Regions from separate parts of the Homo sapiens genome. Here region 2 is linked to region 1. The links come from fine-mapping of genetic effects on gene expression. A gene starts in region 1. The other region holds a variant in brackets. All regions are shown on one strand. Distances are between the middles of the regions.

Region 1 (11,681 bases):
GACAACTGTTAATATTTAATAAATTCCATGTTATGTATAAGGAGTTAATTGCAAACATGCAATTGAGAAACTGGATAGATACACTCATAAAACCCCCACCCCTCCCCACCCCACCCCTGCTCCCATTGTGTGTGTGAAATTCTCAGTCTGTGGCATGTTTGACCTGTGGCAGGACTCGCTGCTGCCAGGTGAGTCACCGCCTGTCCTGCAGTGGAGCATGCACAGCTCGCAGCCTCTTTGCACGATTTCATCCATTTTAAATGCTTGACCCTCTTGCTTGGAGTTCTTTTTGCCTCAGAACCTCTCCTTCAGGAGCACTTCTAGCTGACTTCTGCACAAGCTAGTGAGGACCTGCCAGAATTGTTGCCTGAGCGTGCCAGGCTGCAGGGCAGGCAGTAAAAGGCCCCCACATACCCTGCAGTTTTCTCTGTCCAGGACAGCAGGTAAAAAGGAATCCCCAGAGCAGACGCAATGGTAGGAGCCTGCACAGGATGTGTGTGTATGGACATTCTGAAGGTTTGCTGTAGGATATCTGTCTGTCTGTCATTTTCCCTTCCTACCCCAACCCTGAGCCAGAGGCATCTGACAGCCCTTTCCCAGAGGGCACCACGCAAGGGCAGAGCTGGGCGGCATCCACAGCCAGAGAGGCAGAGGCAAGAGCAGAGCCAGGCTGTGCCCGAGGGACCCCAGCTCTTGACTGCACCTGTTTCATGCCTCTCCTCTGTGGCTAGGAGGCTCAAAGGACTGTGAGCCAGGAGATCTGGGCTGGAGCTAGGGGGTCAATGGATGCTCAGGAAGAGCTGGGCCTTTGGCACTTGTGGTGAGAACAGTTGACAGTGGTCATCTGGAACTGTTCATATAAACAGTGGCTTCAAGCTAAGTTTCTTGTGAAGTTTCTCAATAGCAAATCTTACAGAAGGTCCTGTGTGACCCTCTCTGCATCTGTCCCCAGGACCTATGCTCCCTGCTCACCCCCTTCTCCAAAGCCCAAGCGTCCCGCTGCTCATCAGCTTTTTTACCATTGAGCCAGGAGTGCGGCAGGCAGTACCTGCCTGACCCTTCAAGGCCTGACCTTCGTCCAGAGTGCTCTGGTTTGCACCATGCATTTCTCAGGGGTCCGCATTTCTCATGCTTTTCTATAAGATCTACACACCCCTTCAGAGAGGGCTCCTCGCTCACCTCTGGTAGCTATGGATGGGACAGGAAGCTGCCAACCTTTGTGTTGGACTTAACACCCTTGCCTTTCTGGGACTTGGCCTCACCCCACCCATGGAATACCTGCCTCATCCCAAAGATCAGGTATGGGCTGAATGCAGCCATCTGAGCAAGGGCTGAGGGAAGCCATCACCTAACACCTCTGGCCACCCAGGACCAGGTCTGTGTGGGGATGTGCCTTGGAGACCAAGGCAATAGTCCTTTCCACTACAGGCCAGGGGATGGGACAAGAAGTAGGGAACAGGCAGGGAAATGTTAGGAGGTCAGCCTCCAGCAGGCCTAGTCTCAGGCTCTAAAGTACTGACTTTTCAGCAAATTTCCTTTCTGGCCAAGCCCTCTGAGTTTGAAATTCTGACATCTGCCACTCCTCATCCCCCACTGTACCCACAGGATACATCATCGCCCCTCTGTGAAGGTGGCTGGAGCAGGCCTCTGGTCCATGGACTGTCCTTCCTGGCCCTTGCATGGATGCAGTTGTGACTCTGGGGACAATGCAGCCAGAAGCTGAGGGACCAGCACTTGGTGCCTTGGAAAGTAGAGAGCAACAGACACATCTCCAAATGGGCAAGGAGTCTCTAGCATGCAGCCCAGGCCTTCTCCATACCCCTCTCCCCAGCATCATGAGCAAGGGCATTGCCTCCTCTCTCTGCTCACTTCAGGGCCCAGTGCACTCACTTCACAGTGACAGCCCTCCCCTACAATCCTTGGGCAGAGCATGTGGTCTGAGGGCCCACAGTGAAAGAACAGCAGTGGTGGCAACTATGCCTTGCCTTCTGGAGCCTGTAGGGAGTTTTCCAGGCAGGTCCTTTGCCAGGACAGCATGGTCCTGCCCTGTTGTCCCGTCTGCTCTCCTCTTACCCACCCCCATGCTGTAAATACTTGTCATCATGGACTCCAACAGGGTTAGAGGGACAGGCCTAATCAACTGAAACTCCTCGGAGATGCCATCTCTGTCTCCCTGGGTGCCAGCAGCCCTGCTGCCATGTGCACTGGGGTGGCACTGGAGAGCCATGGCAGTCGTGAGATATTGTATGTGTATGCACATGATCATGTGTGTATGTGCGTGCGTGCGTGCGTGTGTGTGTGTGTGTGTGTTTCTGCCTCATTCAGTTTCTGGGGTCAAATCAGCTCCTTCTCTCCAAGTGCACTACCCTGGAGAGTGGTGGCCACTCAATACCTTTTCCTCTAGCTTTCATGTCTTGTTTTTGCTTTCCCCTTCCTCCTCCCTCTCTCCCTTTCTTTCCTTCTCTCCTTCTTTATTTGAGGGGGGAAGAGTGCTGTACAAAGTCAAACAAACAAGTTTACAGTTGTAAGTGCAATGACCCGAGTCCTCCACATGACCTTGTGAATTGTGTGCTGTCCTTCTGTGCTCTGTGAGAACTCGTGGTACTTCAGTGTCCCTCCCCCTGTATTGTGACAAGGTAATTCTGTGGTATCAGAATAAAAGGACTTGATATAAACAACCTACAGACTGTTTCTGGGATGGTTTCTCAAGTGGGAAGGCTTAGCTGAAGGAGCAAATCCCCAAATTTGCGACAATCCTGTCCATGGTTAAAGGGAAAAGGATGGACAAAGTTGCAGAAGTGCTGGCACAGCACGGGGCTGAGTCCACACCAAGCCATCCAAAGACAATGGGCCCTCCACAAAGGTGCCCAAGGGGAGGTCCCAAGCTTGGACCTGGAGCAGGCAGTCAGTGCGCAGGCTGTTGAGGGACAGCACCTCCATGGCCTTCAGGTGTGTTGGCTGCATACACAGCTTTCTGGGACCTGGTTCCAGGGAGGCAGTGAACAAGTGCTGCCCCCTGGTGCTGCCAACAAGCCCTACACCTCTCTGCCTTGCTCCGAATTTTCCAACCCCCAAACTCTCACCGGCTGCCAGACCTTAGGCCTTCCTCAGATGGTCAGGAGTACCTCCTTACCGAAGTCACCCAGAGTTGCTAGACCTTTTTTTTTTTTTTTTTTTTTTTTAACACAGATAAACAGGAATCCCAGCTTCACCTCTGGCCCTCTCCCCAGAATTAACATTTTGATGCGTGTCCTTCTTTCCTGTTTGTTGTTCCAGTCTTCATTTTAAACAGAAGCCAGAAGGTGCAATATATCCTGTTTTCTAGCTTTCTGTTTATTTCCACGTTTATTTCAGGTACTTAAATGTTCGTCTTCCAGTGCTCAACCTCCAGAGAGATACACCATTAGTTCATAGCCAGTCTACCACACACAATCTAAGGAACAGGCACTATGTTCCCAGTGTTCCTATTATAAACAATGCTTGATGAACATCCTATTTTCCAATCTTTCCACCCAAATTGGTGGCTGGGGCCACTCATTCTACTCCTGTTTCTGGCCTTGATACAGTCCTGTACATACTGACAAATGCAGTGGCGTCAGAAAGTTGGGACTCTTTTTTTTTTTTTTTCTTGAGACGGAGTTTCACTCTTGTTGCCCAGGCTGGAGTGCAGTGGCATGATCTCGGCTCACTGCAACCTCCACTTCCCAGGTTCAAGCGATTCTCCTGCCTCAGCCTCCCGAGTAGCTGGGATTACAGGCGCGTGCCACCCAGCCCGGCTAATTTTTGTATTTTTAGTAGAGACAGGGTTTCTCCATGTTGGCCAAGCTGATCCCGAACTCCTGGCCTCAGGTGATCCACCCGCCTCAGCCTCCCAAAGTGCTAGGATTATAGGCGTGAGCCACCGCGCCTGGCACTTTTTTTTTTTTTTTTTTAAGATGGACTCTGGCTGTCGCCCAGGATGGAGTGCAGTGGCGCGATCTCGGCTCACTGCAAGCTCCGCCTCCCGGGTTCACACCATTCTCCTGCCTCAGCCTCCCGAGTAACTGGGACTACAGGCGCCTGCCACCATGCCCAGCTAATTTTTTGTATTTTTAGTAGAGACAGGGTTTCACCGTGTTAGCCAGGATGGTCTCGATCTCCTGACCTCGTGATCCGCCCGCCTCGGCCTTCCAAAGTGCAGGGATTACAGGCGTGAGCCACCGCGCCCGGCCGGCCGGGACTTTTTTTTTTTTTTTTTTTTTTTTTTTTACTTAACTAGTTATCTTGAGTAAGTAATGATGCGGCTGATGGGAAAGGGGAAGCTACAGGCCAGACAAGTGGACTCTCAATCACAAGCACGCCATGGAGCAGGGAGCCAGGGCCCTGAATGTGGAAGACCAGCCAGACTCAGGTATATGGAGGGAACATCCTTACTGTCCAGCCTCTCCTGATCTCTGTTGGCACCTTAGCCCAGCCAATCCTGTACCACGTGCACAGGGAACCTGCCTGCCTAGGTTTTTTCCACAGGAAGCTCCCTGGTCCTGGGTGGAGTCTGAGCCCACCAGGCCTTTCACACCCAAGAGCTCAGGGTGAGGCCTGGGGAGGAAGGCAGGGACCCACCAGCTCACGGTCCCCAACAAGGTGCCACTGAGAAGGCTGGGTAAAGGCTGCGGGGATAGATAGCTCTTGCGGCAGGCCTGGCGACTGATAAGTCCGGGCAGCACCCTAAGAGTTGGCACCCGCCCCTCTGCCCCGCACCCCAGGGCTTTGCTTCGCGCCCTCCGCCCGGACCCTGGCCCTTCTCTTCTTCGTCTGCGTGGAACTCCCTCCAGGGCAGGGCCTGGCACTGTGTAGTGAATGTCGGCCTCGTGGTGGACCCGAAGGAACCCTACAGTCAGCCCCAGAGCCGCGGGAGATCCACGCTGCGGCCGGCTCCGCCCCGCCCAACCCTCACCCTCACGCTCACGCTCACGCTCACGCTCACGCTCACGCTCACAGGCTCCCGGCTCCACATTCCTCGCAGGGCTCCAATCCGGACCCGCCCGCCTTGCCCTTCATCCTCAAAGACTCATTGGTCCCATTCCCCTCGGGCCCCGCCCTTCGCGTGCTTGGGCCATGCCCGTCCGACCGCGCTGCTTCCGCCTTGCAGCACCCCCTCAACCCCTTCTCTCGTAGGCCCTTCTACCCTCCCCGAAGCCGGGCTCCCGGGTTCCGCTTCCACAGGGCCGCCCCCTCTCCTCCGAGATCCAACGCCTCGCCCCTCGGTAAGAGGCCCAGGACTCAGCCCACGGCCCCGCCCCCCACTTGGCTAGTCCGCCCCTGGCGAGACCCCTGCTCTCACCCACCCAGGACTTCTCGCTCCCAGGCCGGGTCCTCTCACCGTCAAGGCCCGCCCCCTGCCAACGGTCCTCACCCATTAGCCGAAGGCCCCGCCCCTCACAGATTGCCGCAGGGCAGGGGCGGAGACAGCCCGGGCCGTCCCAGGCTCCGCCCCCGGAAGCCTCACTTCCGGGCGCGAGCACGCCCCGCCTCGCCCCGGCGGCAGAGAGGAGACTATGGAACGTCAGGTGAGGGCTCGGCCCGCGGTCCCCGTGGTCCCTGCAGCCCGGGCCGGGCCTGACCCTGGTGTGTCCCCTGCGCAGGTGCTGCTGAGCGAGCCCGAGGAGGCGGCGGCTCTGTATCGGGGCCTTAGCCGCCAGCCCGCGCTGAGCGCCGCCTGCCTGGGCCCGGAGGTCACCACGCAGTACGGCGGCCAATACCGGACGGTGCACACTGGTGTGTGTGCGAAGGGGAACTGGCTGGCGACGGGGTCGCGCACTGGGGTGGGAAGGAAGGGGGTGTGGAGGGCTCGCTGCTTGACAGTGCGTAAGGGTATATAGGGAGCCGGCCTGGACTTGGAGGTTACACTCCCACAGGTCCCTGCACACAGGTGTGTGGAGGGGGGGAGGGGGCGTGCGGGGCGTTATCGAATGGCGGCCATGAGTGCACGAGATGACGGCGTAGGGGTAGAAGTCAAACCTGGGCTCAGGGCGTGGACCTTGTAGGGCTCTCCACCAACACGCCATCCCATACACATGCCAGGCTGCCCTCAAGATTCCAGGGTGGATGCTGGGGTTACTAGGGGGTTCTCTCAAAGAGGCTGTCAGCTCAGGCTCTGGAGGCCTGGACTAGGGTTGTGGCCAAGTGTTGTCCAGCCTGCAGCCAGGGTGTCAGTGTCTGGAGACAGATTGAGAGATTGGGGAAGATAGATCTAGGCCTTCCTGGGTCAGGTGGGGCTGGGGGCAGTAGCCAGGAGTAGCCAAGACAAGGTGAGCAGTCTCATGCCTCCCCTCACAGAGTGGACCCAGAGGGACCTGGAACGCATGGAGAACATTCGATTCTGCCGCCAATACCTGGTGTTCCATGACGGGGACTCAGTGGTGTTTGCAGGACCTGCAGGCAACAGTGTGGAGACCCGGGGGGAGTAAGTTTGAGGGAGGAAGCTTGTGGGCAAGGCCACAGCCGTCCGCAATGCAAGCCTTTTATGAATGCTCACCATGTGCCTAGAAGGGAGGCCAGCAGCCAGGTTCTTGCCCCCTTGGGAGCTCATTCAGTTTCTGGTGACATGGCCTGATAAGCACTGGAAGCTTGCTCCAAACTCAGCCTGGACTAGAGCCCATGGTGGCCTGGGGAGTTGCAGAGAGTAGAGTCTCTGCCTCAGGGAGGAAAGGCAAGGTGGGGCTAGAGGTGCTCCAGAAGCTGGTGTGGGGCCAGAGCCTCAAGAATCTCTCCTAAGAGGTGTGCCCAGTAGGGAGCAGGAAGGGGTTATTGCAAGATAATCCTGACCTGTGCTACCCCATGTCCACAGACTGCTGAGCAGAGAGTCTCCTTCAGGCACCATGAAAGCTGTGCTGCGCAAGGCTGGAGGCACGGGCCCTGGGGAAGAGAAGCAGTTCCTGGAGGTGAGTCTGCATGGGACCAGGTAGTGGGTGACAAGAGAGAGGCTCTGCCCCACAGATAAGGCTCTGTTAGCGGGCAAACAGCCTAATGCCCAGATGTCCTCAGGTCTGGGAGAAGAACCGGAAGCTCAAGAGCTTCAACCTGTCAGCGCTGGAGAAACATGGGCCTGTTTATGAGGATGGTGAGGCATCTGGCTGGTGAGCAGGCAGGGTGGACAGGAGGGGTAGCCGTAGCCCTGGGCCCCCCCTGATTGGCCCTCCCTGCACCCAGACTGCTTTGGCTGCCTGTCCTGGTCGCACTCGGAGACACACTTGTTGTATGTGGCAGAGAAGAAGCGCCCCAAGGCCGAGTCCTTCTTTCAGACCAAAGCCTTGGACGTCAGTGCCAGCGATGATGAGATAGCCAGGCTGAAGAAGCCAGACCAAGCCATCAAGGTGCTCGTGGTCAATCCACGAAGGCCCGGCAGGGCAGCCCTGGGGCTCAGTGTGCTCCCTTCCCATACTGTGCCTGTCAGACCTGGGGAGGCACTAGCTTTTAGGAAGCAGAGCAGGTCCTATAGACAGGCTGGGCATTGAGTATCTTGTGTTCTCAGGGGGATCAGTTTGTGTTTTATGAAGACTGGGGAGAAAACATGGTTTCCAAAAGCATCCCTGTGCTCTGCGTGCTGGATGTCGAGAGTGGCAACATCTCTGTGCTTGAGGGGGTCCCTGAGAATGTGTCCCCTGGACAGGTCAGCAGCAACAGCCTGTGTCCCCCCTGGAGTCTGGGACCCTTCTTGAGCTACCACCCCTTGCTCACTCCTGCCCTTTGATCCTGTTTACAGGCATTTTGGGCCCCTGGAGATGCTGGTGTGGTGTTTGTGGGCTGGTGGCATGAGCCCTTCCGGTTGGGCATCCGCTTTTGCACCAATCGCAGGTGAGGGAGTGGGGCAAGGCAAGGGGCCTTGCAGCCCAGCTGGCCTTGAGACTGAGTGTCTGTCTCGTGGTTCCAGGTCAGCCCTGTATTATGTGGACCTCATCGGGGGGAAGTGTGGTAAGTGGCTGATGCCCACCTGTGCTTTGCTGACACATGTTGGCCCTGCCAGCCTGCGTGATGCTCATGTTTCCATCTGGCCCAGAGCTCCTCTCGGATGACTCCCTGGCTGTCTCTTCTCCCCGGCTGAGCCCAGACCAATGTCGCATTGTCTACCTGCAGTACCCATCTCTGATCCCCCATCACCAATGCAGCCAGCTGTGCCTGGTGAGCTGGAGGTGGCAGGGATGGGAGGGTGGTCAGCAAGAAGATGGGATGGTGGATGAGAGCTGAAGGGCCAGTATCATCTCCCCATAGGCCCTCAGTAGGTGCCCTTCTGTCCTCAATGCAGCAGCGGTGTGAGTTCTGCCTGTCCTCTCAAGGAGGGCCTAGAGGTTGAGAGTGCTGCCATGGAGAGCTTTGCACTGTTGGGGCATTCCACCTTGAGAGAATGCTCGTCTGCAAGAATGCTCCTCCCCTTGGCTCTCAACTGCATGTAGCCAGGCTCTGCAAGGGGCTGGGATATAGTGGGGAGTTACACAATCCCAGACCCTCCCCAGGAAGAGCTCTGGGCCCCTGGTAAAAGTCAGAGGGACATGCCTATCTGAGGCCCCTTGGGCATCTGGTCCAGGTCACCAGAAAAGAGATACATCAGGCTTATTCCAGTTCCCCCATCTCCTGGGGCTACCTGAGGCAAAAGGGGATAGGCACAGGGCACTGTGCCCTAAGGGAACTGCCTGTCCCCTACTGGACCTGACCATTGTGTTCTCTTGCAGTATGACTGGTATACCAAGGTTACCTCAGTGGTGGTAGATGTTGTGCCTCGGCAGCTGGGAGGTAAGGCATACCTGGCTGGGTGGGTGCAGTGGGGCCTGTAGCTCTGCTTTCCTGCCGTCTGTTGCATCCCTGCCCCGTTCTTCTTTCCTAGGTTCCTTCTGAGGGCCCTACCTCCCTGCTGGGCCAGCCTTATGCCCAGCATCCTCAGGGAGCGGGGCTGTCACCATAGGGAGCGGGGCTGTCACCGTAGGGAACAGTTCAATAGCAAGGAGTGGTAGGACCAAGCTGAGATCAGAGTGGCCCAAGTTGATGATGTATTATTTCCTGTGCTGCAGGTCATAATTAGAGTTTTCTTATTTTTCCAATGGCTGGTTCAAACCAAAACCATGACTCCTTCAAGTGGGTCTCAGGAAGTGCACTAGGTTGGAATGTCACACTCGAGAGGCTCTGGACCCGAGGGCATGATATTATCCCATCCACCATCCTAACCCCAGCAACCTTTGTCCAGTCTAAGCCCTGAAGTCAGCTGGGTCTTCAGGAGGGTGGCTCTTGGCTGAGAGGCTCCCGTCTCGAGTGTTGATAGCTCTGCTTGGATCCTCCTGGACCATCTCAAGGATGAGTCTCTTGTTTTCTCAGGCCACCCGGTCAGTTCCAGGAGTTCAGTGGACAAGGGATAGCCTCTTTGTCTTCTCTTTGGGTTGCAGGGATGCAGTGGTGGGAACCTAGTATGAATCCCAGCTCTGCCCTAAATTAGCTGTGTCCTCAGACAGGGTCCTGGCCTCCCTGAGCTCCCATTTCTTCATGGAGGGGTGATTGTGTCTGCCTGCCTCATAGGATCATAGTGAGTGTTAAGTGAGTGATGATATTAAAGGGTAGGATTTACTGAGCCCCCTGTGCCAAGCGCTGTGCTAAGCACCACAGTGGAGATAAGACGGACAGATGATATCTTGGTTAAAGCACCTGGTACCTACCTGGGTTCAACTGGAATTACTCAGGAGAGCAAGTGCTTTTCCTCTGAGCACCCATGGTTTCTCTCTGGAGCTCTTGAGCTCTGCCTCTCTGGGTCCTCTCTGGGTCCCAAGAGGCCTCTGCCCCTCAGCCACCTACTCAGGCAGCTCCTCATCGCGTAGCGTGCCCCCATGTGTGCTACAAGCTGCAGGGGCCTGACTGGTGCCTGAGTAGGGCCCTGGGTGAATTCCCCAGTACCCTAGCCTTCCTTGTAGACTACCCTCCCTACCTCCACTCCTGGATGCAGCCTCAGCCCTCCTATCTTTACAGAGAACTTCTCTGGGATCTACTGCAGCCTTCTGCCTTTGGGATGCTGGTCAGCTGACAGCCAGAGAGTGGTCTTTGACTCGGCTCAGCGCAGCCGGCAGGTGAGGGACGCTGATTGTGTTGAGGGGCAGCCCCTGTGGTCAACCCCCAGGAGCCCTGGGGGTTGCATGTGCATGCCCCTGGGTGGAATGCCCAGCCACAAAGTCTCATCAGCCCCTTAAAACCCTGCCTGCCCATCCTGGACTCATTTCTCCTGGAGGGGACTGGCTGCCCTGGTGCACCACAGCAGAACTCAGGCCTTTTCGTCTGAGGCAGAGATGCAACCCCTCCCAGGCATTTCTAGCTGGGGGTCAAGGGGACTGCCACTCGGGTGGGTCCCTGAACACTCTGTAATGGCAGCTGATGGGGACAGGACTGAGGCCTTCCCCCAGGGATGGAGTAAAGCCACTCACAGTGTGCCAGGCTCCTTTTGGGTGTGATATTTGGTCCTTGTGCCAACTCAAAGGGGCTCAAAGCCATTCCTTACCTTGCCCAGGGTCACCCAGCAAGTTGTGATGGTGCTGGGATTTGAACCCAGGCCCTCACACTACTCCCTACTGCACTGAGTAACCATCACCATAGCTGTCCACAGCCTTGGTCTGGCCAGGGCTCTCCAAGAGGGTAGAGAGGAGGTAGGGGAGGGACCCATAGGTAGAGGGAGTACTCTTGGATGTGGTCGCACCTGTGGCCTTGCCTCTGCTTCAGGACCTGTTTGCTGTGGACACCCAAGTGGGCACTGTGACCTCCCTCACAGCTGGTGAGCAAGGCTTTGGGGATGGGGGTAAGGGCAGGGCTGGTGAGCAAGCCAACCAGGCAGCGGGGGACTGGAGCTCCAACATGTGGGGCAGTGATGGCATTCTCAGCCACTCAGCACCACTGACTGTTCCACAGCCTTTACTAACAGGTCCCCAAGGCCCCTGTCTGTGCAGACCCTTACCCAACCAACAGACTAGCTTCCCTGCTCTACTGCCCTTTAGCACTCAACTCTGTTCCATGTGTCCTGGCCCAGCCTCAGCACGGCCCCCACCTCTGCTCCTAAAACCCACAAAACTCTCTCTTATCAAGATCTGCCAGACTCATCCTTCTCGCTCTGCAAACCTTGGGTGCCTGTCTCAGGCAGAGGCAGCTCTGCCACCTGAGGGCCCAGGAAAAGCCCAGTGTTGACTCCCCCGTCTTCCCCATACTTAGGCCTGGTGATTCTGCCTTTGAAATGTGTTTTGAGTCCTCCACCTGACCTGACTGTATCCGCTCCTCCACAAAGCTACCAAAGTATCATTCCAAAGCTACATCTCATTGTACAACTGCTTGGACACCACTGCCCCAAATCAGCACGCTCCCCGACCCCCAACTTCCCGGTCCCAGCTGCCACCCTGCACACAGCAGCCATCGAGGGACAGGCAGATGTGCCTGCATGGTCTGATGTGTCTTAAGGTTTGGCAGTTCCCAGCCCAGCCAGTGTCTGTCAGATGAACAACAGACTGAGAGCAGGAGGCTCACCCGGGGCCATGTGCAGTTGGGTGTTTGTGAAAGGCACTTCTCGGGGAGAAAAGGGCACCTTTCCATAGAGTCTCCAGCCTGGGACTCTGTTACAGAGAAGCAGGTAAGAAAGGTGATGGCTCCTGCTAAGCACTTAATGGCATCTGCCTTTTCCAGGAGGGTCA
Region 2 (11,681 bases), 21 kb after region 1:
GGGTGAGATAAGAGACTGAACTGCAGAGTAGGGAGTGCTGGCTAAGGCAGTGCTGCAGAGCGAAACTCTAGACCTGCGCTGTCTAATAGAACTTTATATGATGGTGGGAACGTTCTACCTTTGTGCTGTCCAACAGAGTAACCATTAGCCACATGTGGTCATTGAACTCTTGAAATGTGGCTAAGGCAACTGAGAAATCGAATTGTTAATTTTTAAAACTTTAAATTTAAGTAACCTCATGTGGATGACGGCTGCTGTGTTGGACAGCACCGCTACACATCAGTGAGGCCAGCACCAGGGACTCAGTGCAGGTTCTGGAGCAGCTGCAGCAGCAACATGATGTGAGGGATAGATGCACTAGGAGGACCAATGGAGTTTGCCATGAGGGCTGGGCAAGGGTGGTGCTTGGATGAGGTGGGAGGCCACATGTGTGAGTGGGAATGGTGAAACTATCAGGACCATGGATAAAAGAAGGGAGGAACCCAGGGCTGAGGAAAGAGGCTCCAGCCTTGTGGGGAGTAAGTGGGACTTATGGCTAGAGATGACCAGACCAGTGGTGGTCTGCACTTGGGGGAATGTGTAGGATTGTCGCTTCTGGTTGTGAGCTGGACTCAGTATGGCTTACAACTGAGATGGATACAGGGGCTCTGCCCCTAGGACACCTCACTTTGGACATTTTGGTCTGATTTCCACAGAGCTGAGACATTTTGTTATGGTTCGGCAAAAATATATCTAGTACCTGCTCTCTGCCCAGCCCTGTGCTGGGCACAGGGACACTGGAGAACAAGAAGTGGTCCCTGTTACATGGGCCTAGACCCTGGCTACCCTCCCTGTGTAGGAAGCTGGGAGCCCCTGCATTCCCCTGCCCTATGTGTTAGTGTGCATGCCCCTGGCCTCACCTGCTCCCAAGCCTTCCTGCCATGGCAGGACTGAGGTCAGGTGTGGGGGCCCCTGGCTGGCCCTGAGTAGACAGGCTCTGTGTCTGGCTCAGCCCCCAGGACCACTGGCTGCCCATGAGAGATGAAGGATGGCATCCAAGGGGGCCGGCATGTCTTTCTCCCGCAAGAGCTATAGGCTGACCTCAGATGCTGAGAAATCCAGGGTCACAGGTAAGAGCTGGCAGGGAAGGAAGGAGGCTCCTCTTGTTGGGAGGAGAAGGAAGGGACAAAGGCCTCAGGCCTTGCTGCACCTGTGGCTGGCCTAGGACCAGAAGTCTCTGGGGCCAGCAGGGGCCAGGAGCTGCACTGATCATGTGGCCCTTTTCTCCCTTCTGACTTGTGGCTCAGGCATTGTGCAGGAGAAGCTGCTGAATGACTACCTGAACCGCATCTTTTCCTCTTCTGAACATGCACCCCCAGCAGCCACCAGCAGGTATGGCTGGGTGGGTGGCCCCTCCTCACTCTGCTGGGCCAGACCAGAATAAGGAGGCTGCAGTTGTAGGGAAAGGGAGCCTGGGCTCTGGACAGATAGGCTTAGGCTCTGTTCTCACTGTGCTCCTGGCTGCGAGATCTCTGGCCAGAGAGTCTGCCTTCCGTACTCTGCTTCTTCCTGTCTCCAGGCAGTGCTAGTTCCTTCTGAGAGTCAGGGAGCAGAGGTCAGGGAGCGGGTGCACATTCATGCCCAGCTAGCACCTGGCACCTACTCCATACCCAGCATCTGCCCCTGCATGTACCTGCCCTCACCTTGGCCCCAGCCTGGCCCCTTGTAGCTTCTGACTGACCTTGTAAAGAACAAACTCCTCCAGGGCCTTTTCTTTACAAGTTTAATACTTTTAAGTGTAGTCAGTATAAAAGTTACAAGTACATTTTAGCAGAAACTTAGAGGGCCAGGCACAGTGGTTCACACCTGTAATCCCAGCACTTTGGGAGGCCAAGGTGGGTAGATTGCTTGAGTCCAGGAGTTCAAGACCAGCCTGAGCAACATGGCAAGACCCCATCTCTACAATAAAATACAGAAATTACCTGGGCATGGTGGTGTGCACCTGTAGTCCCAGCTGTTAGGGAGGCTGATGTGGGAGGATCACTTGAGCCTAGGAGGTTGAGGCTGCAGTGAGTTGGCCTCTGCATGCCACTGCACTGTAGCCTGGGTGACAGAGCAAGACCCTGTCTCTAAAAAAAGAAGGAAAAGCACCTGCTATCTTGTTATTTTAACATGACTATTCAAATGTGATTCTTTTCTGTTTCTTTCTTTGTGTTACATTTTTAATTTTTAATTTTTGTGGGTATGTAGTAGGTATATATATTTATAGGGTACATGAGATACTTTGATACAGGCATGCAATGCGTAATAATCACATCATGGTAAATGGGGTATCCATCCCCTCAAGCATTTATCTTTTGTCTTATAAACAATCTAGTTATACTCTTTTAGTTATTTTTAAATGTACAATTATTATTTACTATAGTCACTCTGTTCTGCTACCAGATAGGTCTCATTAATTCAATTTTTTTGTACGCATTAGCCATCCCCATCTCCCCACAAGCCCTATACTACCCTTCCAAGCCTCTGGTAACCATCCAGTACTTTGCCTCTATGAGTTCAATTGTTTTAATTTTTAGCTGTCACAAATAAGTGATAACATGCAATGTTTGTCTTTTTCTGCCTGGCTTATTTCATTTAACATAATGACCTCCAGTTCCATCCATGTTGTTGCATATTACAGGATCTCATTCTTTTTTATGGCCGAATAGTACTCCGTTGTGTATATGTACCATGTTTTCTTTATTTATTCATCTGTTGATGGACACTTAGATTGCTTCCAAATCTTGGCTATTGTGAACAGTGCTGCAACAAACATGGGAATGCAGATATCTCTTTGATATACTGATTTCCCTTCTTTCAGGTATATACCCAGCAGTGGGGTTGCTGGATCATATGGTAGCTCAATTTTTAGTTTAGTTTTTTTTTTTTTGAAAAATTTTTTTTTTTGAGACGGAGTCTTGCTCTGTTGCCCAGGCTGGAGTGCAGGGGCACAATCTCAGCTCACTGCAAGCTCCGCCTCCCAGGTTCATGCCATTCTTCTGCCTCAGCCTCCCAAGTAGCTGGGACTGCAGGTGCCCGCCACCATGCCCAGCTAATTTTTTGCATTTTTAGTAGAGACGGGGTTTCACCGTGTTAGCCAGGATGGTCTTGATCTCCTGAGCTCGTGATCCGCCCACCTCGGCCTCCCAAAGTGCTGGGATTACAGGCGTGAGCCAGTGTGCCTGGCCTTTTTTTTTTTTTTTTTTTTTTTTTTGAGATGGAGTTTTGCTCTTGTTGCCCAGCCTGGAGTGCAGTGGCATGATCTTGGCTCACTGCAACCTCTGCCTCCCAAGTTCTAGTAATTCTCCTGCCTCAGCCTCCCGAGTAGCTGGGATTACAGGCACAAACCACCACACCCAGTTAATTTTGGTATTTTTAGTAGAGATGGGGTTTCGCCATGTTGGCCAGGCTGGTCTCGAACTCCTAGCCTCAGGTGATCCTCCCACCTCGACGTCCCAAAGTGCTGAGATTACAGGCATGAGCCACCGCACCTGACCAATTTTTAGTTTTTTGAGGAACCTCCAAACTGTTCTCGATAGTGATTGCACTATTATAATTTACATTCCCACTAACAGCATACAGGGGTTCCACAACCTCGCCAGCATTTGTTATTGCCTGTCTTTTGGATAAAAGCCATTTTAGCTGGTGTGAGATGATATCTCGTAGTTTTGATTTGCATTTCTCTGATGACCAGTGACGTTGAATGCCTTTCCATATGCCTGTTTACCATTCGTATGTCTTCTTTTGAGAAATGTCTGTTCGTATCTTTTGCCCATCTTTTGATGGAATTATTAGTTTTTTTCCTATAGAGTTGTTTGCGTTCTTTGTATATTCTGGTTATTAATCCCTTGTCAGATGGGTAGTTTACAAATATTTTCTCCCATTTGTGGGCTGTCTCTTCACTTTGTTGATCGTTTACTTTGCTATGCAGAAGCTTTTTAACTTCATGTCTGTTTATCTTATAATGTATGTAGTTCAGATTATGCTGTATAGAAAACTTTAAAAAAATTTATCACCTTCAGTTCTTTTCTTAAAACGTTTTTATTGAGCTATGATTAATATACAATAAACTACACATACTTAAAGTGTACAATTTGATAAGTGTTAACATATATATAAAACCCGTGAAACCATCACTACCATCAAGGTAATGGACATGTCCCTCACTTCCAAAAGTCTATAGAAGTTTGCATCCTATTTTTATCATCAAATGTTATCCCGTGAGTATTTTTCCCCATTATCAATTTATCTTACTGAGCATCTTTAGGGCCAGGGGGTCTGCTGTGGCCCATACCAGTGCCCTAGTTTGGAAGGACTTTTGCTTTTGTAAACAATGCTGTGAGGATGCCCAGGGCTGGAGTCGTGTGGCTAGAGTGTTTGAACTGCAGTCACTTTTAAGACTGTTGCCAGATTACTTCTTCAAAGGATCAAGTAGGTTCTCCCTCCCTGCAGTGAGGCACGGTTGTCCCTGTCTCTCACCCCCTCATCAGCCTTAGCTGTTCTGTCTTTTACGACTTCTGCCCTTTAGGCAGGTCCAAAAGGCAGCAACGTTACCTGTTCTATTTAAGCAACTGTGGTGGTCAGAAAGTGCCTGCTTGCAGAGAGTTCCTGCCCACCCCCACCCCATACTCAGTCCTGGCCTGTTCTCAGAGCCATCTGATCCCTACCTCATGTGATACCAGAGATGGTCCTACTGCTGCTGCTGCTGCTGTGGCCGCCAGGAGAGACAGCAGGTGGTAGGGCTGTCAGTCAGTGGTTGTGGGTATTCAGGGCCCTGAACTGGGACCTAGGAGATCCAAAAAGGTCAGGGAAGTTGCTGGTCTTGGCCAAATGGGCAGTGCTGTAGGCACTCAGTGGTGGCTGTCTCAGGCCGACTGCCCACAGATATGTGCAGTCTGCTCTCAGGATCAGGCACACGACTTTTGGGGTCAGGTACAAGAGTAGCTGCTCCAAGTGTGGGCTTGTTAAGAACTGTTTTCTTTTGAGACAGGGTCTCGCTATGTCACAGTCATAGCTCACTGCAACCTCAAAGTCCCAGGCTCAAGGAATCCTCCCACCTCAGCCTCCCACATAGCTGGGACCACAAGCACATGCCACAGCACCCAGCTAATTTTTTTTTTTTAAGAGACAGGGTCTTACTGTGTCACCCAGGCTGGTCTCAAACCCCTGGGCTCAAGTGATTCTCCCACCTCAGCCTCCCAAAGTGCTGAGACTACAGGTGTGAGCCACCATGCTTGGCCTGTAACTGCTTTTGAGGAAGGCTCCTTTATCCTTGGGCCCACTGGGGTATTCAGAGATGGGGTTGGCTTTAGCCTTCTATGCTACTAGCTGAGCACCCCGACTGCATAGCCACCACCTGGCCTTGGCCTGGGACAGAGCAGCAGTGGGGAGGGGCCTTTGTGCATCTCTGCTCCTACAGCTCAGGGCTGGGAGTGGCTTACACTGGGGAATATGTGATCCCTGAGCCTGGGTAGTGGCTACTTTGTCAGGGTGCTTGTCCAACCTTTGTCCCCTTCCAGAGCTTTCTGTCTGTGTGGATGAGTGGGGTAAGAACTGGCATTAAAGGTGGAAGAGCAGGTGGTGGCACCCTGTGGGCAGCCAGGTGTGTAATGGGCCTCTGTTCTGCCTGAGTCCTGCTGGTTACCACCACCTCACTCCCTGCTATTCTTAGCAGCTGAGCTCAGGACAGCACTGACTGGCATTAGACAGTACCCTTTTCCCTCTAGGCCTGTGTGTTGAGAGGATGAGGGGGCCACCCAGACAGATTTTTCCCAACTCCTTTGGCTCGGGTAGGTGGGTCATGTGCTCCGCTGACCATTTATGGACTGGCGGGTACAGGACAGAGCCATCCAGCAGCTCAGAGGGCTGAGCCTTTCATACTTCCAGAACATGTCCCATTCAACACAGACTCCCCTGGCTGGGTGGTGGCGAGACTGGAATCTGCCCCAAAGGAACCACAGGCCTAGGGGCAAGGGTTGGACTAGGTGGCCTTGGTACTGACCACTTTGGGAACCAGCATTTCTCCCAGCCTTCTTCTTCCAGACATCATCAGCACAGCCACCTTTGAGAGCGGACAGGTTATGTGCTATGCAGACAGCACTTGTTATTCCCTGGGCTCTTCACAGCATCTCTAACATAAGTCACTATTCTGTTTTTACAGATGAAGGAATTAAGACTTAGAGAGGGCTACTTTTTTTTTTTTTTTTTGAGACAGAGTCTTGCTCTGTCACCCAGACTAGAGTGCAGTGGCACGATCATGGCTCACTGCAACCTCCGCCTCCCAGGTTCAAGCAATTCTCCTGCCTCCGCCTCCCAAGTAGCTGGTATTACAGGCACATGCCACCGCGCCCAGCATTTTTAGTAGAGTCGCAATTTCACCATGTTGGCCAGGCTGGTCTTGAACTACTGACCTCGTGATCTGCCCGCCTCAGCCTCCCAAAGTGCTGGGATTACAGGCATGAGCCACCGCACCTGGCCACATACTTTTTTTTTTTTTTTTTTTGAGACAGAGTCTTACTCTTGTTGCCCGGGCTGAAGTACAATGACACGATCTTGGCTTACTACAACCTCTGCCCCACCAAGGTTCAAGCTATTCTCCTGCCTCTGTCTCC[C/T]GAGTAGCTGGGATTATACGCATGCGCCACCACACTCAGCTAATTTTTGTATTTTTAGTAGGGATGGGGTTTCACCATGTGGCCAGGCTGGTCTCGAACTCCTGACCTCAGGTGATCTGCCCGCCTCGGCCTCCCAAAGTGCTGGGATTACAGGCATGGGCCACCACACCCGGCCTGGACTGGTTATACTTTTGAGTTTAGTGGAGAATTCGGCCTTCTGACCTCCTGCATGCCAGAGTCTAGGACTAGGCACAGCCCTTTTTCTGGAGTCTAGGCAGCCCCCCTGTGAGCTCAGGGGAAAGGATGGGATTTAGTGTCATCTGGCTGATTTCAAGGACTTGTGGACCCCTGGCAGCCTCTCACTCTCCCCAGGAAACCCCTGAACTTCCAGAACCTGCCAGAACATTTGGACCAGTTGCTACAGGTGGACAATGAGGAGGAGGAAAGCCAGGGTATGTGGCCACCTCTGGAGTGGGGTTGGGAGGTGCAGAGCTGGGACGTAGCGGGCCTGGAGACGTCTGGTGAGCTCAGGACACCCTATGCATCCTGTCAAATGCTCCACCCTGCCTGACCCCACCTCTCCTCTTTTCAGGACAGGTTGAAGGGCGGCTTGGCCCATCCACTGTGGTCCTGGACCACACAGGCGGCTTTGAGGGGCTTCTCCTGGTGGATGATGACCTGCTGGGGGTGAGTGAGGGTGAGGTGTGGAGACCCAGGTCCAGCCCCTTCTGACATAGCCCCAGGCTCCTCCTGATGTGGCCCTAGTCTCTCTACTCATCTGATGGGGCTGCAGCCAAAACTTGTCCTGACGTGGCCCCAGACCATTGTGTTCTCAGTCCTCAAACTCTCCCACTAAAGCCCTGAAACAGTCTTGATGTGGACTCAGCCCCCAGCCCTTCCCAGCACAGCCCTGAGTCCCTCTCTCATCCTGCCTTGGCCCAGGATCCTTCCTGATACAAGCCTACCCGCTCCCACCGTCCTCAGGCACAGTGCAGTGTTGGCCGCCACAGGCAAATACCACCAGGGCTGGCTCAGTTGGGGATGGGGTCTTTTTCCCTTGGGGAGATGCTCTGTGTGCCTGGGAGCTAGCCCACCACCCCTCTTCTTCACCCAGGTGATTGGACACAGCAACTTTGGCACCATCCGCTCTACCACATGCGTGTACAAAGGTGAGACCTTACCCTGCTGTGGCCTAGGTAGTGAGGAGAAAGTTTAAGGGCCCAGGCATGAGGCAAGAGGCAGTCTTTGTCCACCTCGTGGCCCTAACTCAGCTCTTTCCAGGGAAATGGCTCTACGAGGTCCTCATCTCCTCCCAGGGGCTCATGCAGATCGGCTGGTGCACCATCAGCTGCCGCTTCAACCAGGAGGTACACGTTGGGGAGGGGACCCCTCCCTGGGCCCAGGGAGAGCTTCTCCTGCCACAGGCCTCATCAGGTCTCCAGATCCCCTCAGAACTGCCTAGGACCCTAACTAACCTGGACTGCCCTCTGGAGAAGAAACGTGTCCCACCCAATCCCAGGCACCCCAGCTCAGAGAATACCTCTTACTCTTTCCCTCAGATCATCTGTTCCCTTCTGTAGAGCCATATGCATCCAAGGCTGGTGATTGGTGGGCTCTGGCCCAGACCCTGCCTGCCTCACCAGGGACCTCATAGGCATTTCCTCCCTAGGAGGGGGTTGGAGATACACACAACTCCTATGCCTATGATGGCAACCGCGTGCGCAAGTGGAATGTGACCACAACGAATTATGGCAAGGTGAGAGCCAAGCCCCTGTGGGTCATCCGCCCCATGACTGTTACTACAGCTTATTTGGAGCCACTGGGCAGCCATAAGGGACTACAGGGCACCAGGGAAGGGTCAGGGACCCAGGTCCTTTGTCCTTGTGGCTAGTCTCCCTTGGGTGGTTCTGGAAACGCAGCTGGGGTTCAGAGTCAGCAGGCTGCTGGGCTTCTGTGCATCTGGTGAGGCCTCCTCTCATGGCAGGCGTGGGCAGCGGGGGACATCGTGAGCTGCCTGATTGACCTGGATGATGGCACTCTGTCCTTCTGCCTGTGAGTTTCCTATCTCTATGCACAGGCCTGGCCCCTGGGGCCTCCCCAGACTGCCCCCAGTTTCCTGGGCCCTGTAAGGGGCCAGACTGAGTTTGATAGCCTGAGGGTGGGCAGCCACATGCTTAGCACTGGCTCACAGACCCACCCTTCTCCCCAGGAACGGTGTATCACTGGGCACTGCCTTTGAGAACCTGTCCAGGGGCCTGGGTATGGCCTACTTCCCAGCCATCAGCCTCTCTTTCAAGGAGTCCGTGGCCTTCAACTTTGGCAGCCGTCCTCTGCGATATCATTTTGTGAAGATGGCTGTGGGCTGCTCAGAAGCTCTTGGGGAGGCTGGGATGAGGGGCTCCCTACCCCAGGGGTGCCATGGGCTGGTGGCAGGCCCTGGCTGCTGCAGAGTTAGTGGGGGGCCATGTAGAGTGTCGAAGAAAACTTTCCTCGCAGCAGCCTGGTTGGTTGGGTGCCCTTGTCTCCACTGAACAGATGAGGAATGTGAAGCATCCTCCCTAGGGAGAATAAGTGGGCAAGTTGTGATGCAAACCAGCCCTGCCCTAGAGCCCAGGCCCCGGGGTGGGGGGTGGGCAGTGGAGAGGGAGTAGGCATGTCTGAGCCACAGATAAGGCGTTGCTGGCTTAACTCTGGCACCTACCCAGTGGCAGGCTACCGGCCCCTGCAGGACCCACCGAGTGCTGACCTGGTGCGGGCACAGAGGTTGCTGGGCTGCTTCCGGGCAGTGCTGAGTGTGGAGCTGGACCCTGTGGTGAGCTGGGGTCTGGGCCAGGCGGGGTGGGGGGCTTCCACAGCCTCCTGCCCCTCACACTTCTCCCTCCTCCCCCTCCACACAGGAGGGGCGGCTGTTGGACAAGGAGAGCTCCAAGTGGCGGTTGCGGGGCCAGCCCACCGTCCTCCTCACACTGGCCCACATCTTCCATCACTTTGCACCGCTTCTGGTGAGCGGCATTGGGAGGGGCATGGGAGGGGAGGAGACAGGCCATGCTAGACACGCCCGTGGTAGATGTGCCCTCACTGAGGGCTGCAGTGCTGAGGTCCCACAGCATCACCTGGCGAGGGCCCCATGTGACCAGGGCCCTCAGACCTCAGTCAGTCCCCTAGGGAAACAGGGACATTGCCAACCAAGGGCATCAGGGGATGTCCTGGAAAGAAGACTGAAGGATAATAACATCCCAGGCCAAGGAAACTGCGTGTGCCAAGCCTTAGAGGAGCCGTGGGGCAATGGCCTTCTTGTCCCTCAGTCAGACCCCGGAAGGGGTCATCTATGTTTGGTGTTGCTCGAGTGGCTCAAGGCTCTGTGCCTGAGGCTTGTGCCTTGGCCATGTGCCAGGGCAGGGGTGCCTTGACCAGAGTGGAAGGCCACCACCTCACCAGTGCCTGGCCTTGGTGCAGCGCAAGGTGTATCTGGTGGAGGCTGTGCTCATGAGCTTCTTGCTGGGCATCGTGGAGAAGGGCACACCCACACAGGCACAGTCCGTGGTGCACCAGGTCCTGGACCTCTTGTGGCTCTTCATGGAGGTGAGGCTCCTGACCTCAGGCCTCAGGCCTGGCTGTCAGTCTTCACTGGGGTCGGGAAGATACGGGGAGAATCTTGGAAAAGGCCCCAGTCATGGCTGCCTTGGCATCTCTTCCCCCAGGACTACGAGGTACAAGATTGCCTCAAGCAGTTGATGATGTCTCTGCTTCGGCTGTACCGATTCTCACCCATTGTCCCAGACCTGGGCCTACAGGTGGGAGCCCCTACCCCTGCCCTGAGCCCCCTGGGACTCGCCTGTCCACTCTGAACGCCCCCTCTCCACAGATCCATTACCTGCGGCTCACTATCGCCATCCTGAGGCATGAGAAGTCCCGCAAGTTTCTGCTTAGCAATGTCCTGTATCCTTTCCTTGCTGCCTGGCAGGCCAGACATGGGGTGCCCTCTGGACTCAGCAGAGGCCAGGAAGGGGAGTGTCATCAGGCCAGGGGTCCCCTGGGAGCATCAGGAGGACCAGAGCTGCCCAACGTGGCATTTTCTCTACAGAGCAAGGACGAGAGAGCAAAGGACTGAGCCTGGCCAGCCAGCCTAGCCAGGGGGTTCTGAATGACTGCAGACTCGGGCTACGCAGAGGTGTGGGAGGGGCCACAGGGCCTGCCCTCTTCGGCCACAGCCCAGCACTTTTGTTCATGTTCCACAGTGGGGATTCCTGCAAGATCTTTAAGGAGGCAGCTCTTCCTGCTTCCCAGAATTGTTGGGAACTGCATGAGTGAGTGAGAGCATAGCTTTGAGCCCCTGGCTGGGAAGCCTCAGCTTGTAGCCGTTTTCTTGGTCTGGGGTCTTCCAGCCTCCAGGAGGCAGACACAAAGCTGGGAGACACAGAGGTCAGAGTTGGGGCCTGAGAAAAGGCCACCAGTCCCTCTCTCCAGCTTGTCCCACAGTCATCTGTTCCTGTGACAAGCCCTTATCGTGCACCTGCTGGGTACTGGAGCTGGTGGGCTTAACCACCACAGCTTTTTGTCAGGGAGCATGCCCTGGGGGTCAGACACATAGCAGCAACATGCCCCTGTGGTGGTGGGAGAGCTGTGGTAGGCACATCCAGGGATGGGCTCCTGGGGAAGGACTCTTGAGGGTGTGCAGAGTGCCCTTTGGCAAGCAGAGCCCTGCCTTGACACCCGCCAGCTTCGACGTGCTCCGCTCCGTCGTCTTCTTTTACATCAAGAGCCCCCTGCGTGTGGAGGAGGCCGGCCTGCAGGAGCTCATTCCCACCACCTGGTGGCCCCACTGCTCCAGTAGGGAGGTGAGTGCACCCCAAGTGGGATGGGCAGAGGTCATGGCAAGGCCCCTGGCCTGGGCATCTGGCCACTGGGCATCTAGCATGAGGCCTTTTCACTGGCCCTGGTCCCTGAAGCCCTGGAGATGGAGTGTGGGTGTTCTGAGTGAAGGAGGCCTGGCTAGGTCCCAGGTGACCCTGCTGTATTCCACCTGCTACCCCTGCCTAGGGCAAAGAG

Evidence for each region. PIP is the estimated chance that this variant, and not a neighbour inherited with it, causes the effect.
Region 2: its variant is the best candidate, but not a certain one, in a credible set for the expression of APEH in whole blood (TOPMed, PIP 0.53).

Annotation. Positions count from the first base shown.
Region 1 is chr3:49,668,868-49,680,548 of GRCh38, forward strand. APEH (acylaminoacyl-peptide hydrolase) reads left to right here and starts at 5,484. Exons shown (of 22, transcript NM_001640.4): 1 at 5,484-5,546; 2 at 5,622-5,754; 3 at 6,316-6,442; 4 at 6,827-6,920; 5 at 7,024-7,099; 6 at 7,189-7,352; 7 at 7,511-7,648; 8 at 7,742-7,833; 9 at 7,910-7,950; 10 at 8,036-8,157; 11 at 8,706-8,766; 12 at 9,985-10,082; 13 at 10,726-10,777; 14 at 11,674-11,681. The coding sequence starts at 5,535. BSN (bassoon presynaptic cytomatrix protein) reads left to right here. Exons shown (of 12, transcript NM_003458.4): 12 at 1-2,682. RefSeq lists a silencer at 5,169-5,778.
Region 2 is chr3:49,690,139-49,701,819 of GRCh38, forward strand. It overlaps RNF123 (ring finger protein 123), which reads left to right. Exons shown (of 39, transcript NM_022064.5): 2 at 992-1,109; 3 at 1,287-1,371; 4 at 7,005-7,084; 5 at 7,225-7,319; 6 at 7,747-7,801; 7 at 7,914-7,999; 8 at 8,302-8,388; 9 at 8,617-8,684; 10 at 8,842-8,967; 11 at 9,330-9,444; 12 at 9,530-9,634; 13 at 10,089-10,214; 14 at 10,334-10,426; 15 at 10,498-10,571; 2 more. The coding sequence starts at 1,028. Among named protein-coding and RNA genes, the nearest start is that of RNF123, 6.4 kb to the left of the region's middle. The variant C/T (reference allele first, on the strand shown) is at 6,633.